Regions from separate parts of the Homo sapiens genome. Here all the other regions are reported to be linked to region 1. Evidence: microRNA targets listed by miRTarBase, many of them from high-throughput screens and not tested one by one. Region 1 holds a microRNA gene; each other region holds the end of a gene's coding sequence.
Evidence for each region. The annotated mature microRNA hsa-miR-3120-3p reads CACAGCAAGUGUAGACAGGCA and lies in region 1 at 3,219-3,239, opposite strand. An mRNA with a match to its seed (bases 2 to 7 or 8) in the 3' UTR can be bound and repressed. Matches are read on the target gene's strand: a 7mer-m8 pairs with bases 2 to 8, a 7mer-A1 pairs with bases 2 to 7 and ends in A, and an 8mer does both.

Region 2: miRTarBase lists SOD2 as a target of hsa-miR-3120-3p. Seed matches in the 3' UTR shown: 7mer-m8 at 669-675.
Region 3: miRTarBase lists HMGB3 as a target of hsa-miR-3120-3p. Seed matches in the 3' UTR shown: 7mer-m8 at 1,192-1,198.

What each region holds. Positions count from the first base shown.
Region 1 is chr1:172,136,918-172,142,096 of GRCh38, reverse strand. MIR3120 (microRNA 3120) reads right to left here and starts at 3,289; the gene lies at 3,209-3,289. The region is part of intron 14 of DNM3 (dynamin 3); the gene reads right to left. It overlaps DNM3OS (DNM3 opposite strand/antisense RNA), which reads left to right. Exons shown (of 4, transcript NR_103486.1): 4 at 1,501-5,179. It overlaps MIR214 (microRNA 214), which reads left to right and starts at 3,190; the gene lies at 3,190-3,299.
Region 2 is chr6:159,678,227-159,683,226 of GRCh38, forward strand. It overlaps SOD2 (superoxide dismutase 2), which reads right to left. Exons shown (of 5, transcript NM_000636.4): 5 at 1-4,412. The coding sequence ends at 4,267. Among named protein-coding and RNA genes, the nearest start is that of SOD2, 13 kb to the right of the region's middle.
Region 3 is chrX:150,987,004-150,992,003 of GRCh38, forward strand. HMGB3 (high mobility group box 3) reads left to right here. Exons shown (of 5, transcript NM_005342.4): 4 at 125-299; 5 at 774-3,768. The coding sequence ends at 911. Among named protein-coding and RNA genes, the nearest start is that of HMGB3, 6.2 kb to the left of the region's middle.

The sequences.
Region 1 (5,179 bases):
GAAAATTGTTTCAGGGTCTGTCCAAACTACACTTCATAGAAATTTCATAATTATTTTTCATTTTAGCATGTGAATGATTGATAAATTGGACTAGGTACTGGGTTAAAAGGACTTTTCCACCATCTAAGAGAAAGGAAGTTCAGAGCCTTAGCTTCAACACCACAATTTCTTAACTGGAAAAGGATCAATCTAAAACGGTGGACTTAAATTTTCAAACTCATTTTTCTTTTAGGCCACAGATCTCAAAATCAAAGAAAGACTGTTTACTATAGGACAAAGTTTCACACTGATCACTTTCCTGTAGTTAGTCAATAGGCTTAATATCCTTCCTGCTTGGCATTCGGGCTTTCGGCCCAGATAATATGTTTATGTTTGTAAAAGACCAAAATATACTATCTACCCCCACCTCTCGCCTACAGACCACCCATGTATTTCACTCTGTGGGAAACAGTTTAGGCATAAAAATCCTAACGAAAGAATTCTCCCCACTTTTTTGGTTGAAGTCTTAAGCTGTTATAAGATATAAAAAGTACAACTTGGTAATGTGAAAAAATTCACTCATCCACAAGCATCCATGCTCGGTAAAGAGACGCCAAAGCTTTCACTTACTCTGTAAGGGATCTGCTCTTTATAAACAATGCACTTTACTCTGCTCTAAGGAGAATAGCCCACCCATCACAATAACGTCAAAATAATAACTAAGAGACCATCACTCAGAAATCCTGGCTTAAAATAACTAGAAGGTCAGGCTTTAACCTGAGACAGGAAATTCCTGAGTTAAGATAGAAACTTTCTTACTTCAAATCCCTTCTTACTTTCATGTTCTGTAAATTAAGTAGAAATAAATATTTACTCATTTTCAAAGGTCTCTTACAAATAATTTTTATCAGTTTTAATAGTTAGAGATAACGAAGTAAATTAGGAAAAATAATTAAATCTTCATTTTGAATTTTTTGACTTAGCGTGACAGCCAGTTTCCTGGAGTTGCTTTGGTTTAATTTCACTACAGAAGACTTAGAAGACAATTCTTTTCTTACATTTTTTTCCTTAAGAAATAAAAGACAAAAAGAAAACAAGGTGTAATAACCACACTAAAAATTACATGGTATGATAATAATACAAATAGCTCTTTTATGTTTTAGCTAGTATTTTAAGTAATAATAAACTAATATTCAACCTATAATTTGGGAGATTAAAAAAAGGTCAATATGGTTTTCAGTCTTTCATCTTTTTAACAAGTTTAGGGGCAGGTTCAACATAACAATGAAGTGTGCATATGTCACATAGTTACTGTAAGTGTGTTTTAAAAATCTATCAGAAACATAAATTGTCCAAAAGCCTTATGAATAGAACAATTGTTTTCAGCAAGATTTTTTTTTTCCCCTGAAAAACTGTTGTGGTTTTTCTGGCTCAAAAAATTTTTATATCTTGCCTTAATAAAACTGTTTTATATTAAAGCATAACATACAAACTCACAAATATTTCTTTTTATTTTTTCAGGTTGCATGCATCATTCCTTTAATTGAGCAGAGTTAACTGGATCAAATTATTTATGGGAGAGAGAGGAAAAGTTATAAAGAATTATAGTAATTTTTAATTTCCACCAATATACTCTTTGTAAGTGAATCACTCTATAATTACTTTCTGTTGCACTGAATGCAGCAACAATAACACAATAGTATTTTAAGGCACTGGTTTTTGGCATACTCTAACCTTGTAATTATTTAAATAACAGCCAAGTTTACTCATGTTTTTGATTCTGTCAAGAAAAAAAAAAAGTTCCTTTACTCGAAAGTGATGGCCGAAACAGAATCGGAAATTTGTTTTCTTGAAATTACATAAATACACAGAAAATGGCACTTATTAGCTTTTGTTAAAACATTACCTTACCTAATCACTGCATAAAAGTCCAGATTTGTAGAAAATTGTAATTTTCTCAGTATCTAAAACTATTTTGCTTTCCATTAAGTTTCTATTTGCTATTTTCTCAGAATTTTACAATTAAAGATAAATCACAAACTGTTTGTTTTTCTTAAAGTTCTTTGAGAAAATGTCTAATTATACAATCCTTGGACAATACTGTGTTTTTTTGGTGCTGTGTTTTTTAAGAAGTCCTACTTACTGGAATTTTGACTATTTGGATATTTTTGTTTTTAAAAGGGGAGGGGAATTTGCTTAATACTTCTAAAGATGTGAATTGATAATTGATATTAAAATAGAATTACTCTCAACTCACCAGAATTAAATTTTATATCTGCATATTTAACACTATTAGCTCATATAAATTATAAGAAAAATTTTCAAAGGATCTGGTTTTAATTTTTTGGATATGAAATGAATTTGCCTTTTCTGCCTTTTCTTAAGTACTATTTTGTAACTATATTGCACTAACTATATCCAAAACACATTCTGAGCATCACTGTGAGTAACAGCCTTCCAGTTTGTACCCTTTTGATTCACAGCATGGCCCTATAGTTAATTAAGAGGTGGATAACTTAAGCTCACAACTGCCTTTAATTTGATTTCACATCCACAGTTATAAACTTTGCATTTAAAAGGAAAATGAGACATTTAAATAGGTTCCTGTTGTTTCACATATAATTGGTAAAAACATATTCCCTTGTAGGATCCTATTATCAGAGCATCAAATACCAAAGTCAGCAACTTGGGTTGCCAAATAAATTAGGCTCATTAATTATTTTGAAAAGGGCTGCTGTTTCCATGTAAATGATAATTTTCTTTTTCATGGACAAGGTTATGGTACTTATCTACTAAAAGAAACATGCATAAACATAGTTTTTATCTTTAACTTCAGTATTAAAATATGCAGTTTTTTGCAAAGAGGAAAAACATCTGGTTCAATTACGCTGAACTCTGACTACATGTGGGCCAGTAATAATATGAATTGGACTTAAGAATAAACCTTGTGTTTAATCTCTTTTTTTCCTTAAAATTTTAATGTGAGTTTTCTGTTACGCAAATTATCCATGTTAGCACATTTGGAACAAATGTATAAATGTACTTTCTGAATAAAGTCAAAAGTCTAACTTGTTTTTAGTTCCATAATGTTTTAATGTTTAATTATATTGTGTATTTTTCTCCCTTTCCCCTTACTCTCCAAAATCACCAAATCTGGAAAACAGGCTGATTGTATCTGTCTATGAGCAAAGGAAACCTGAAGGAACCAAGGGCCTGGCTGGACAGAGTTGTCATGTGTCTGCCTGTCTACACTTGCTGTGCAGAACATCCGCTCACCTGTACAGCAGGCACAGACAGGCAGTCACATGACAACCCAGCCTGAATGACAACCAGCCATTGAAAGAAAGCAGCCCTCACACCATAGCATCTACACCAAGAGCTACAACCAAAATGAGGGGCTCGGGGGCCTGGGGTTTTAATCTGTTGGTTTAATACTTAACTCATGTATTATTTTATTTTGATTCAAGTATTAAAACCCACCAAAAGTAAAGTGAGTGGTGCCTATGAAATATAATAAAACCCATTTCTGAAAATGTTCCTGTGCATTCTATAGTTCTCTTTTCCTAATTGTTGTCAGCAAATCACTACCCTTGACCTTTATTGTACACAGCTTTGCAGCACCCTATATTGATATAAAAACTCAATATAACAAAACAATATAACTTCAGTCTGATGCTTAACAAAGAATAAATTATTCTAAGAATTCTTGTCCATAAACTAAGTATGGTTTTCTATGTCATGATTTTTTTTTTTTTTTTTTTTTTTTGGAAGGGGATAGGGTGGAAAGACAGAGAAAAGAAAAGGGAGAAAAAGAGTATTCCAAAGGATCAAGTGCTTTGAGTTAACTCTGCCAGTCTGGGTTAACTCTGCCAGTCTGGGTCTGGGCAAAACACAGTGAAAAGACTACTATTTCCAACTAGTGTTCAACTATATTAAAATAATAGTTTCTCCTCTTTTGACATATGGAAAGTTGAAATTTTTGATACTTCCACGCGTCATGGTATACATAAATTTATGACTGCGTCATTCTTTAATTAAGAAGGTGCTTATGCTACAGTTCTAGGAGTAGAATTTACAAGGCCAACACATTCACTTGCAACCTATGCTTCCATCACTATAAACTTTCAAGATCTTGAGATGTTCAGGCAATTCATTTATCTTCAGAAGCATAAGGAAAGTGGTTAATGCACTTGAAATGTATATTTTGACACATCTTTTGAGAAAATATCCAAACTTCAGTTTATGCACTGTTAACTGGAGTGAAATGATAAGGGATGGCTTTTGTCTATGAATACTTTAAATACTTAAGGGTAAAAGGTGGGAAGATGGATAAAATTAGAAATGTGTCAACTTTTATTTAGTTCATTAACATGTTTTAGCTTCAGTATTTGAAATTAATTTTCATCTTTCTTAGATTCTGGTCAAGCTTAAAAAATGTAACACAAGGCTACTCAAAACTTTTTTCACATTTAACAATTAAACACTTTATGTATGTATTCTTAACTAAAGCAAACTATTTTTCATTCAGCTATTTTATTTTTAAAATGAAAGTCTCAGTCTTAAAGCTAAGATCCCAGTGAGTTTCAAATTTTCTGACAATGATATTTTAACCAAACCTGACATTATAGTTTCTTTAATTAAAAAACTGAATGATGGGGCAAAACTACAAAGCACAAATATGATTAAAGTTAAATTTCTCTCATTTAAACAATCTTGTCTTATGGCAATATGTCATCTGCTAAAATTCATCTCTGCTTCTGCAAGATACATTGCACGATGCAGATTTTTGCCTTAAATAAAAGTCCCATTACTAGCAAATAAAGTCCTAAACAATACTTACAAAATGTAGAATATAAACAGGAAGACAATATAAAAATTACTCACAGAATATCGACATCGTTCTACCCAATCTTAAATGCCTTGTACCACCTGTTGCAAATGCTGCCTATGAGAGTTCACGTATGGAATTATTCTACTGGACCCTGCAAGGCTCAGGAGAGTGCTTGACAGCTCCCAGAATGAGACAATGACCTAGCCAGAACATTAAGGAGACTACACCCGTCCTTCAGACTCCAAAGGGAAAGCTAGGACGGCAGCAGAGTCATCCTAAGGTGAGGCACTCCAGGATAACATTTTCAATATTTTTCCTTAAAACATAAAGTTAACACCTTTTTTGTTAAACATTTTTTACTCAATTTTC
Region 2 (5,000 bases), not on the chromosome of region 1:
TTTGAAATATCCTTTACAAGCCAGAGGCAATGGCTCACACCTGTAATCTCAGCACTTTGGGAGGCTGAGGTGGGTGGATGACTTGAGGTCAGGAGTTTGAGACCAGCCTGGCCAACAGAGTGAAACCCCATCTCTACTAAAAATACAAAAATTAGCTGGGCATGGTGGTGCACACTTGTAATCCCAGCTACTTGGGAGGCTGAGGCATGAGAATCGCTTGAACTCAGGAGGTGGAGGTTGCAGTGAGTTGAGACTGTGCCACCGCACTCCAGCCTGGGTGACACAGTGAGACTCCATCTCTAAATAAAAAAATAAATAAATGAAATATCCTTTACAATAAATTAGTATTGTAACCAATATGTAGTTTTAATAAAGTAATAAAATTAAAAATGGGTAAACATAAGTAGAGTGTTTCTCTGTGTTCTGGGAGCTGCTCTAGCAAATAAATCAAAACCAAGGAAAGGGTCACGGGAACCCCACTTTATAGCCAGTCAGAAGTATAGGGACTTGCGATTGGTATCTGGAGTGGGGGCAGTCTTGTGGGCTGAGCCCTCCACCTGTGGGATCTGACTCCAATTCCAGGTAGACAGTGTCAGAATTGAATTATAGGACATCCAGCTGGTGTCCACTGGACAACCTGGTGTAAAAGTATTGAGTGGTATGTGACAACAGCAAAAACACTTTGGTTTTGTCGTATATCCCTAATACTATGCTTTTAGGTTATCAGATGATGTTATTACAGATATGACTGGAGATACAGGTCTTGGTCTTAAGAGTAATATTTCAACTACCCATTATTTACTATTCCTTTCCCATGGAAACTCAGTGAAAATGACAGAAGATTATAGGATTTTTAAAGTTTTTGACATGCAAGCATAATGCAGACCTCTTTGATGGTTGACAGATTCTTTTATTAACAGTCAAAAACTTCACACAATTGGAAAATAAATGTTTCTTCAATGAATAATCAAACAAAAATTATCCAGGACCTTATAGGGTTTTCAGTATGTACCAGGCTTGATGCACATCTTAGAAGACAGGACATTATCTTGCTGGGATCATTAGGGTATGACTGAAAGTGAGAAACAGTAATTTGTAAAACATTTACCTAATAATAGCTTTCCCAAACAGTACTTCCCCTGGAATTAAAACAGGAAATACAATTTATGTTTATACGTGGTTTTAGATATGACTCAATATACATAGATTTTAACTTTATGGTTTGGTATTACTTTTTTAAAGGCGCTCAATAGAAATTCAAATCTCACTTTAAGACCATGAATTTCAAGTTGCAATGAAGTGTACAATAAAGTTGTGATTTCTCAACATCAAAGTTTAATTATTACAAAATAGTTCAAGCAACAGATAGAATTTCAAAAACAGTATTTGCTTTGCTTCCTTGTTTTGCTCCAACACTAATCATGCTGAGGTTTTTGAAGCACAGCTATGACTAGGGCAGGCACTGCTGATTCAGTCACAAAAACCCTTCTTGGATGAACAATACTTGTTCTTTTCAGAAGAAAAGCAATTTTACCTTTTCTATTTCTATTATGAAAAACAGAGCTAAACAATTTTTGTATTTTTAGTAGAGACAGGGTTTCACCACGTTGGCCACGCTGGTCTTGAACTCCTTCAAGTGTTCTGCCTGCCTTGGCCTCCCAAAGTGCTGGGATTACAGATGTGAGTCACCCCGCCCAGCCCTAAACAATCTTAAAGTCTCCTTTTCCACCAGATGACTAAAATCTTTAGTTTGTAAATTCCCTTAGTCTCTTAAAATCAATCTATCCAGAAGACAAGAAAGACAAACTTAGTGAAGGAAAGAATGCTTCCTCACTCTCTCACCAGAAAGCCAAAGCAAAAATAGAGCCCCACAGAAATTTCAACATTGAACATTTTTTAAATCTTAAAGCTTAGTAGGAATCAAAAAGCTTTATATAAGTCAGCAGATCTGCAAACCTTGTTAGTTCAATACAAACCATGATCTAGCAGACAACTTATATTCAAAAGCTCATCTTTCAAAAGGTTCCACCTTGCCCGTCTATTTAAACAGTCACGACCTTCCTTAGAGAGGCAAGCAGTAATCTTACATGACACATAAAAGCTGTTTCACTGTGACACATATATAATGAAAAGTAATCAGTCTCCAAAGTTTTTCCAATCCACAAGCATGCATACACACACACACATACACACACCGCTTTGGTACTCTTGTCTCTAATAATTTTTAAAGCCTACTTTTCTAACTGAATTTTAAAAGTACCTTGAATTTAAATTTTTTTTAAACTTCAGTCTTCAATATTGAAACTGCTAAGTTACCCCATTTTTCCATGAAAAAAAAATAGAAAAATAAACTTGGGGAAAAAATTAAAAATAAAAAATAAACTTGGGAAAACATTACTAAATAGGTTTAAGAAAAAAGCCTATATAGGCCAGGTGCAGTGGCTCACACCTGTAATCCCAGCACTTTGGGAGGCTGAGCCAGACGGATCACTTGAGGTCAGGAGTTCGAGACCACCCTGGCCAACATGGTGAAACCCTGTCTCTGCTAAAAATACAAAAAGTAGCCAGGCATGGTAGCATGCACCTGTAATCCCAGCTATTCAGGAGGCTGAGGTGGGACAATCACTTGAACCCGGGAAGTGGAGGTTGCAGTGAGCTCCGGTCGCGCCACTGCACTCCAGCCTGGGCAACAGAGCAAGACTCTGTCTCCAAAAAAAAAGAAAAAAAAAAAACGCCTATATAAAGAAAATATTCCAATAGGAGATAAACCTATGTACACAGAGTTGCTCACCCCAGCATTATCTGTAGTAACAATTAGAAACAAATGAAATATTCAAAAACAGTAAATTAGGCAGATGATGAAACAACATGGCAAATGTATGATGCTAAGCCAAATATACAAAAAGATCCCTGTGAGACGGAGCAGGGACCCCTCTTTGGGGTGTGCCAGGGGGATTCCCACAAGCACAGAAATAAAGGAGAATCTTGAGTTTCCTTCACCGAAAACTCCAGGCACCCAGCTCGCCCCGAGAAGGAAACCAGCAAGCTGATAAGCAAGAAGGTCATAACAGTTTCAAACAATAGCCAGGGAAGTTAGAGTCACCTAGAGACATCCTTAACACGTGCCCCTGAGCTACTTTTCAGAAACCCAGACCCCCACCAAATGGATTCACACAGACGTCAGATAAGGGGGAACACCAGGGACTAAACTCTGACCTCCATTCTTTGCTCTCAGTTTCTTCCTGAGGGGCCTGGCCAGACCTTAATGTTCCTTTCTGCGGACCCCAAGTTTTTAGACAAAGCTTTGCTTCCTTAACCAATCACAAATCAGGGAGTCTTTGAATCCACCATAACCTGTAAGCCCGCCCCCTGCCTACCCCACTTCACCTTTCAGGCCAAACCAATATATAAGCTTCATGTAGTGATTTACAATTTTGGTATACAGCCATACCACCCTGAAGGCACCCGATCTCGACTGATTTACAATTTTGCCTTTAACTTCTGCTTTCCTGAAATTTACCACTGCCTTTAAATACTCTAGCTTGTAGGTCATCATGGAGATTGGGTCTCAAGCATGAGCTGCCCAATTCTCCTTGCTTGGCGCCCTGCAAATAAACATCCTCCTTTCTCCTACTGCAAAAACCACCTTTTTGCAGTTTTGCTGTTGAAGTTTGCCTTTACTGTGCAGGTGAGCAAACCCCAGTTCAGTTCACCTGCTACATTTAAACAGTATACAGCTCTATTTGCAAAAACTATACAGGAACATTTGACCTAACAAAAACCACTGGGTGACATCTACCAGAAGTATCACTGCAGAGGATTACTCGACAAAAAGTGCAATTTTCTATAGAAAGCCGAGTGTTTCCCTTGGGAAAGTGTTAATATTTTATTTTTAAGTAACTGGGGCAAAAGACTAGATTTTCTATAACTGCAATAGAATAGGACTAGAAAGGCATCCCTACAAGTCCCCAAAGTATATGGATGGAATATTTTTGATGGTTTTATAAATGACAATTGTAATTTAGCTCTCTGAAGAAAATGTCCAATCAGATTCAATCACACAAAGCATTTACTATTTTCAATCACTTGCCCAATAACAAAATGTTTAGTAAGAAATTATTCAGAACATTAAGTTGTTTATGAAATAAGTGACTAAGCAACATCAAGAAATGCTACAATAGAGCAGCTTACTGTATTCTGCAGTACTCTATACCACTACAAAAACAGTCATAAAGAGCTTAACATACTCAGCATAACGATCGTGGTTTACTTTTTGCAAGCCATGTATCTTTCAGTTACATTCTCCCAGTTGATTACATTCCAAATAGCTTTTAGATAATCAGGCCTGACATTTTTATACTGAAGGTAGTAAGCGTGCTCCCACACATCAATCCCCAGCAGTGGAATAAGGCCTGTTAGAAAGAAGGGGAAAACAAACCAACCATCAGTTTCAGTCTAAAACATTGCATCTTCTCAATTTCAACTTTTATTATTCTACTCACACAAAATTACCCTTTGTAACAATCTCATTCACTTGTTTTTTTATATAAGTAGGAAATCTAGATAAGAATGAATATTCCTATAAAATATTTTTAATTCACTGTTTACAAAGAAAATGTGACAAATACTAACAATAAAATAGACTTGGGAAAATTAACAACAGTACTTTAATAGCTATTCTTAAAAATACCAACAAATTAATTCAAGAGCCAATTCCCAGCCTTCCTCATGGTGGTCTTAGGAGCAGCAGGAAGGGTGGGTTACATCTGTGGGAGCAGGCAAAAGCCCACTGAGAACCTCCTCCAAAGGGTCTGGGCACTCACAGGGGTTTACGAGGAACCAGCTCTGCTCCCCAAGGCTAATTTTAATCTTTGGGAATACAGAGCAGTTGGAGGACACAGTGTTTTCAGAAATTAAGTGAGGTAAATGAAGAATTTAGTTCTATCTGTAAAACATCCATTTAAAAAAACTTTTGGTCTGGGCGCAGTGGCTCAGGCCTG
Region 3 (5,000 bases), not on the chromosome of region 1:
TAGATTACTTCACTTTAGGGAGAAGTCATAGTGGTAGGAGGGAGATGCTTCTCAGGAATGTGGGATTTCAACTTTAACTCAAATTTTTTGTGGTTTCTCATGTAATGTATGTAATTCTTCCAAGGTCTGGATTCTTCCTGTTCTGTTCAGAATTCCGCCCCAAGATCAAATCCACAAACCCCGGCATCTCTATTGGAGACGTGGCAAAAAAGCTGGGTGAGATGTGGAATAATTTAAATGACAGTGAAAAGCAGCCTTACATCACTAAGGCGGCAAAGCTGAAGGAGAAGTATGAGAAGGTAAGGTGGGGCTGGAAGCCTGGACTGGTGAACAGGCAGTGGTTCTGCTATCAGTAGGTTGCAGGGCATGTGGCAGCTTTGCTGGGCTGAGTACTTAGCATAGCGCTCAAGGGCCCATCCCCCTGCAAGGTAGCTACGGGTGCTGGTGTTCATGCTTTTTTTTGACAGGTCTTTGTTTTGGGGACAACTTCAGGCTTGAAAAATTTTCCTTACTCTTTAAGGAAAAAAAAATGTTAACAGAGGATTTGATAGTCCTACTAATGTGACTTGAAGGACACTTGAACACCCACTAACTTTTAAATTCGAATGGCTAAGAACCAAATTCATATATGGAAACACTTCAGATATATATGATAGCAGCACTGTCTTACTTGATTTCAATTCCTGTCCTCTTACCTGAGATGAGGACTGCATGTTTCTACTTTGTGTTAAAACAGCCGCATACTCATTTGAAATGTGTCCCTGTTCCTCTAGGATGTTGCTGACTATAAGTCGAAAGGAAAGTTTGATGGTGCAAAGGGTCCTGCTAAAGTTGCCCGGAAAAAGGTGGAAGAGGAAGATGAAGAAGAGGAGGAGGAAGAAGAGGAGGAGGAGGAGGAGGAGGATGAATAAAGAAACTGTTTATCTGTCTCCTTGTGAATACTTAGAGTAGGGGAGCGCCGTAATTGACACATCTCTTATTTGAGAAGTGTCTGTTGCCCTCATTAGGTTTAATTACAAAATTTGATCACGATCATATTGTAGTCTCTCAAAGTGCTCTAGAAATTGTCAGTGGTTTACATGAAGTGGCCATGGGTGTCTGGAGCACCCTGAAACTGTATCAAAGTTGTACATATTTCCAAACATTTTTAAAATGAAAAGGCACTCTCGTGTTCTCCTCACTCTGTGCACTTTGCTGTTGGTGTGACAAGGCATTTAAAGATGTTTCTGGCATTTTCTTTTTATTTGTAAGGTGGTGGTAACTATGGTTATTGGCTAGAAATCCTGAGTTTTCAACTGTATATATCTATAGTTTGTAAAAAGAACAAAACAACCGAGACAAACCCTTGATGCTCCTTGCTCGGCGTTGAGGCTGTGGGGAAGATGCCTTTTGGGAGAGGCTGTAGCTCAGGGCGTGCACTGTGAGGCTGGACCTGTTGACTCTGCAGGGGGCATCCATTTAGCTTCAGGTTGTCTTGTTTCTGTATATAGTGACATAGCATTCTGCTGCCATCTTAGCTGTGGACAAAGGGGGGTCAGCTGGCATGAGAATATTTTTTTTTTTTAAGTGCGGTAGTTTTTAAACTGTTTGTTTTTAAACAAACTATAGAACTCTTCATTGTCAGCAAAGCAAAGAGTCACTGCATCAATGAAAGTTCAAGAACCTCCTGTACTTAAACACGATTCGCAACGTTCTGTTATTTTTTTTGTATGTTTAGAATGCTGAAATGTTTTTGAAGTTAAATAAACAGTATTACATTTTTAAAACTCTTCTCTATTATAACAGTCAATTTCTGACTCACAGCAGTGAACAAACCCCCACTCCATTGTATTTGGAGACTGGCCTCCCTATAAATGTGGTAGCTTCTTTTATTACTCAGTGGCCAGCTCACTTAGGGCTGAGATGAAGGAGAGGGCTACTTGAAGCTACTGTGTGATTTTGTTTGTGTCTGAGTGGCATTCAGATGAAGTCTGGAGGAGTTAGGAGAACGACATAGGCAAGGTTCAGCAGCCTTCCAAGGTATAGGAAGGTGGGTGATTAGGACTGAGGCTATCTAGGTTTAACTTTTGTCCCACCTCCACCCCCTATTTTGTGGGGCCAAATGCATTGCTAAACAGCAATTTCAGAGTGTATGGTGTGTCAAAAATTAAGGCCTTATTGTTTTTCTCTTTCACCCCTACCCCCCGTGCTCCTGGCACATATCACATTATTTGTGGTGCCCAACATTTGGGGTCTTGAGCCTGCTGCTGGTCTCCTGGATGCCAGTGAGGGTATGTGGGATGGGGTGGTGGGGTAGGGGACGGTATCCTTTTTTTGCTCCTACTTGGAAACACCAAACACCCCAAGGAAGATGATAGGCTCCATCTTGGGCCACCTGAGCTATAGGGCAGGCTAATGGAATCAACCATTTCTGAGCACTAAATGTATCATGAAAAGTTGAATGGCCTGCTCATAAGTTTAGCTCATTCACTGGAAATGTAGATTGATGTTCAATGTTAAACTGGAAGGAGCTTGGTTTGTGTGTCAGTGGTTATATTAGTGGGTAGTGTAACATTTTATCCAGGTTGGGGTGAGGGGAGATGGCCACAGTAGCAAGTGGTGACACTAAATACCATTTTGAAGGCTGATGTGTATATACATCATTACTGTCCGTAGCAATGAAGGATACAGTACTGTGTTGTGGGTGAGTGTTGCTATTGCCCAGCATTAATATTTGGGTGTGTATGTTTGAGGCTATGAAACACGCAGGAGTGTTTTTGTGCTATTAATTTTAAGAGAAAGCAGCTTTTTCTTAAAATTCACTGTTGAGAAACTTGCATGTCTGGAGGCGGTGTCCTCTCCGCCCTGTCGGGTCCTGGATGAGTACGAGTTATGGTCACGGTCACAGCCTGATCTCTTATGTGTTCATAGCCATTCGCTCTCCCATCAGAACTGTTTGTCCTGAATGTGTTCCTCTAGTTCTAGAAAATGACCACTAATTTAAAAAACTCGGTTGTGAGGTTTGCCCAGAGGCACTTGTTCCAGAATTTCCCCTCCTGCTTCAGCCATGTCCTTGTCACTTGGCATTCTAAGCTAAAGCTTTAGCTTCCCAATTCGTGATGTGCTAGGCCAAGATTCGGGAGCTGTTGCCAGCCTCGTCAAATATGGAAGAGAAACAACCTGCGGTCAAAAGGGAGTGATTTGTTAAGTGGTGCGCGTCTATCTCATAACTAGATGTACCAACCAGGGAAGGGCCAAGGATGGAAAGGGGTAACTTTTGTGCTTCCAAAGTAGCTAAGCAGAAGTGGGGGAGCAGTTTAGCCAGATGATCTTTGATTAGGCAAACATTGAGTTTTAAAGAGGCTGTCAAGTTGAGGCCACTTGGTCCATTAGCTGGGGCAGCAAGATCACTACTCAACGTTTTCACACTGTGGCAAGATTGCTCTTCTAGTGGAATAATGCCCTAGTTTCTCTGAGATGATGTAAGTGGCATGATGTTACCTAAGGCTTAGGCTTAGCTTGATTTCTGGGCCCACTGTCTGTGTTCTTAAGATGCCAACCTGTTGCTTTTTTTTTTTTTTTCCCCCATTTAAAAGGATAGTACCTACTCCCTCTAACCACCTCACCCCATTCTTGAATGACATTTTATCCTTCGGAAAGAACAAGGCTGTGATGTAGTGACTATTGTCTGTGTCTCCTGTGTGTGTCTGTTCTTGTCACAAATGTATTTGGGGACGTTGGATGCATTCATTTTCTGTAATAAAGTTTCTTAATCACTCTTCCCAAAAAGTAATCAGTGGGCTGTCTGCGATCTGTCTGAGATACTGAACCTCTGTACTTTTGGTTGATTATCATCAAGGTTTTAGAAGTGCAAACTTTGTGGTAACCATAGATCTGAACTACTAACATTTAGTGGAATGATACCATCAAAATGACTTAAGTGTTAAGGACTCCAAAGCCCCAAGATCAACCTCCTGGCCCGAGGCATAAGGGGGAGTTGGCTCTGAAGCCCTGGACCAGGATAAATAGGCAATTTGCAGGATGCTAACGAGCTACTATTTGATAAAGTGGTTGGGTACTTGTAATCAGCCAGCCCTGCCCACAGGGCTCCTCGAGGCCAAGGGTCTGGGCTTAGTTGGCTGACTCAGCCATGCCCAACAAGGAGTTCTGGAGGAGAGCCACAGGGACCGCTTGCTGTTCTTGGCTCCCAGCTCAGTTTTCTGTGGAGCCCAAGGCTACCTGGTAAGGAAAGGCCATTGAGCCAGCTTGGCGGCCCCAAGCTTCCCTTACTGCTTCAACCAGAGCAGCCTCCCACCCTGTTTTATATGTTGGGCATCCTACGATTTCAGCTTTCAAAAGAAGCTGGGATACCATATCAATAAAAGGAAAAAGACACACATGATCATCTCAATAGACACAAAAACCTTGACAAACACTTTCATGATAAAAACAAGGGTAGAAGGGAACTTCCTCAACCTGATATAGGACGTTTAGGAAAACCCATGGGTTTATTCATGATTGTACTAGAAGTTCTAGCCAGGGCAATTAGGCAAAAGAAAAAGAAAACATCCAGACTGAAATTGAGAAGACAAAGCTATGTCTATTTGTAGATGATATGACCTTGTATACAGATAACCGTAAGGAATCTCCAAATAAAACTGCTAGAAAAATGAATTGATCATCTGCAGTATACAAGATTAACATACAAAAACTAGTATTTCTATATACCAGCCATGAACAATCTGAAACTAAGAAAACATTCTCTTAAATATCTACAATAACATCAAAAAGAATAAAATATTTAGGAATGAACAATATAAGTGCAAAACTTACATGGGGAAAAGTACAAAACATTAAAGACCTAAGGAAATAGACATTCCACGTTCATGAATGGGAAGGTTTAATATTGTTAAGATGGCAATACTCCTGAAATTGATCTAGAACGCAATCTCTATTAGAATCCCAGCTGGCTTCCTCTAGTAGAAATCAGGCTGATTCTAAATGTCATATAGAAATTCAAG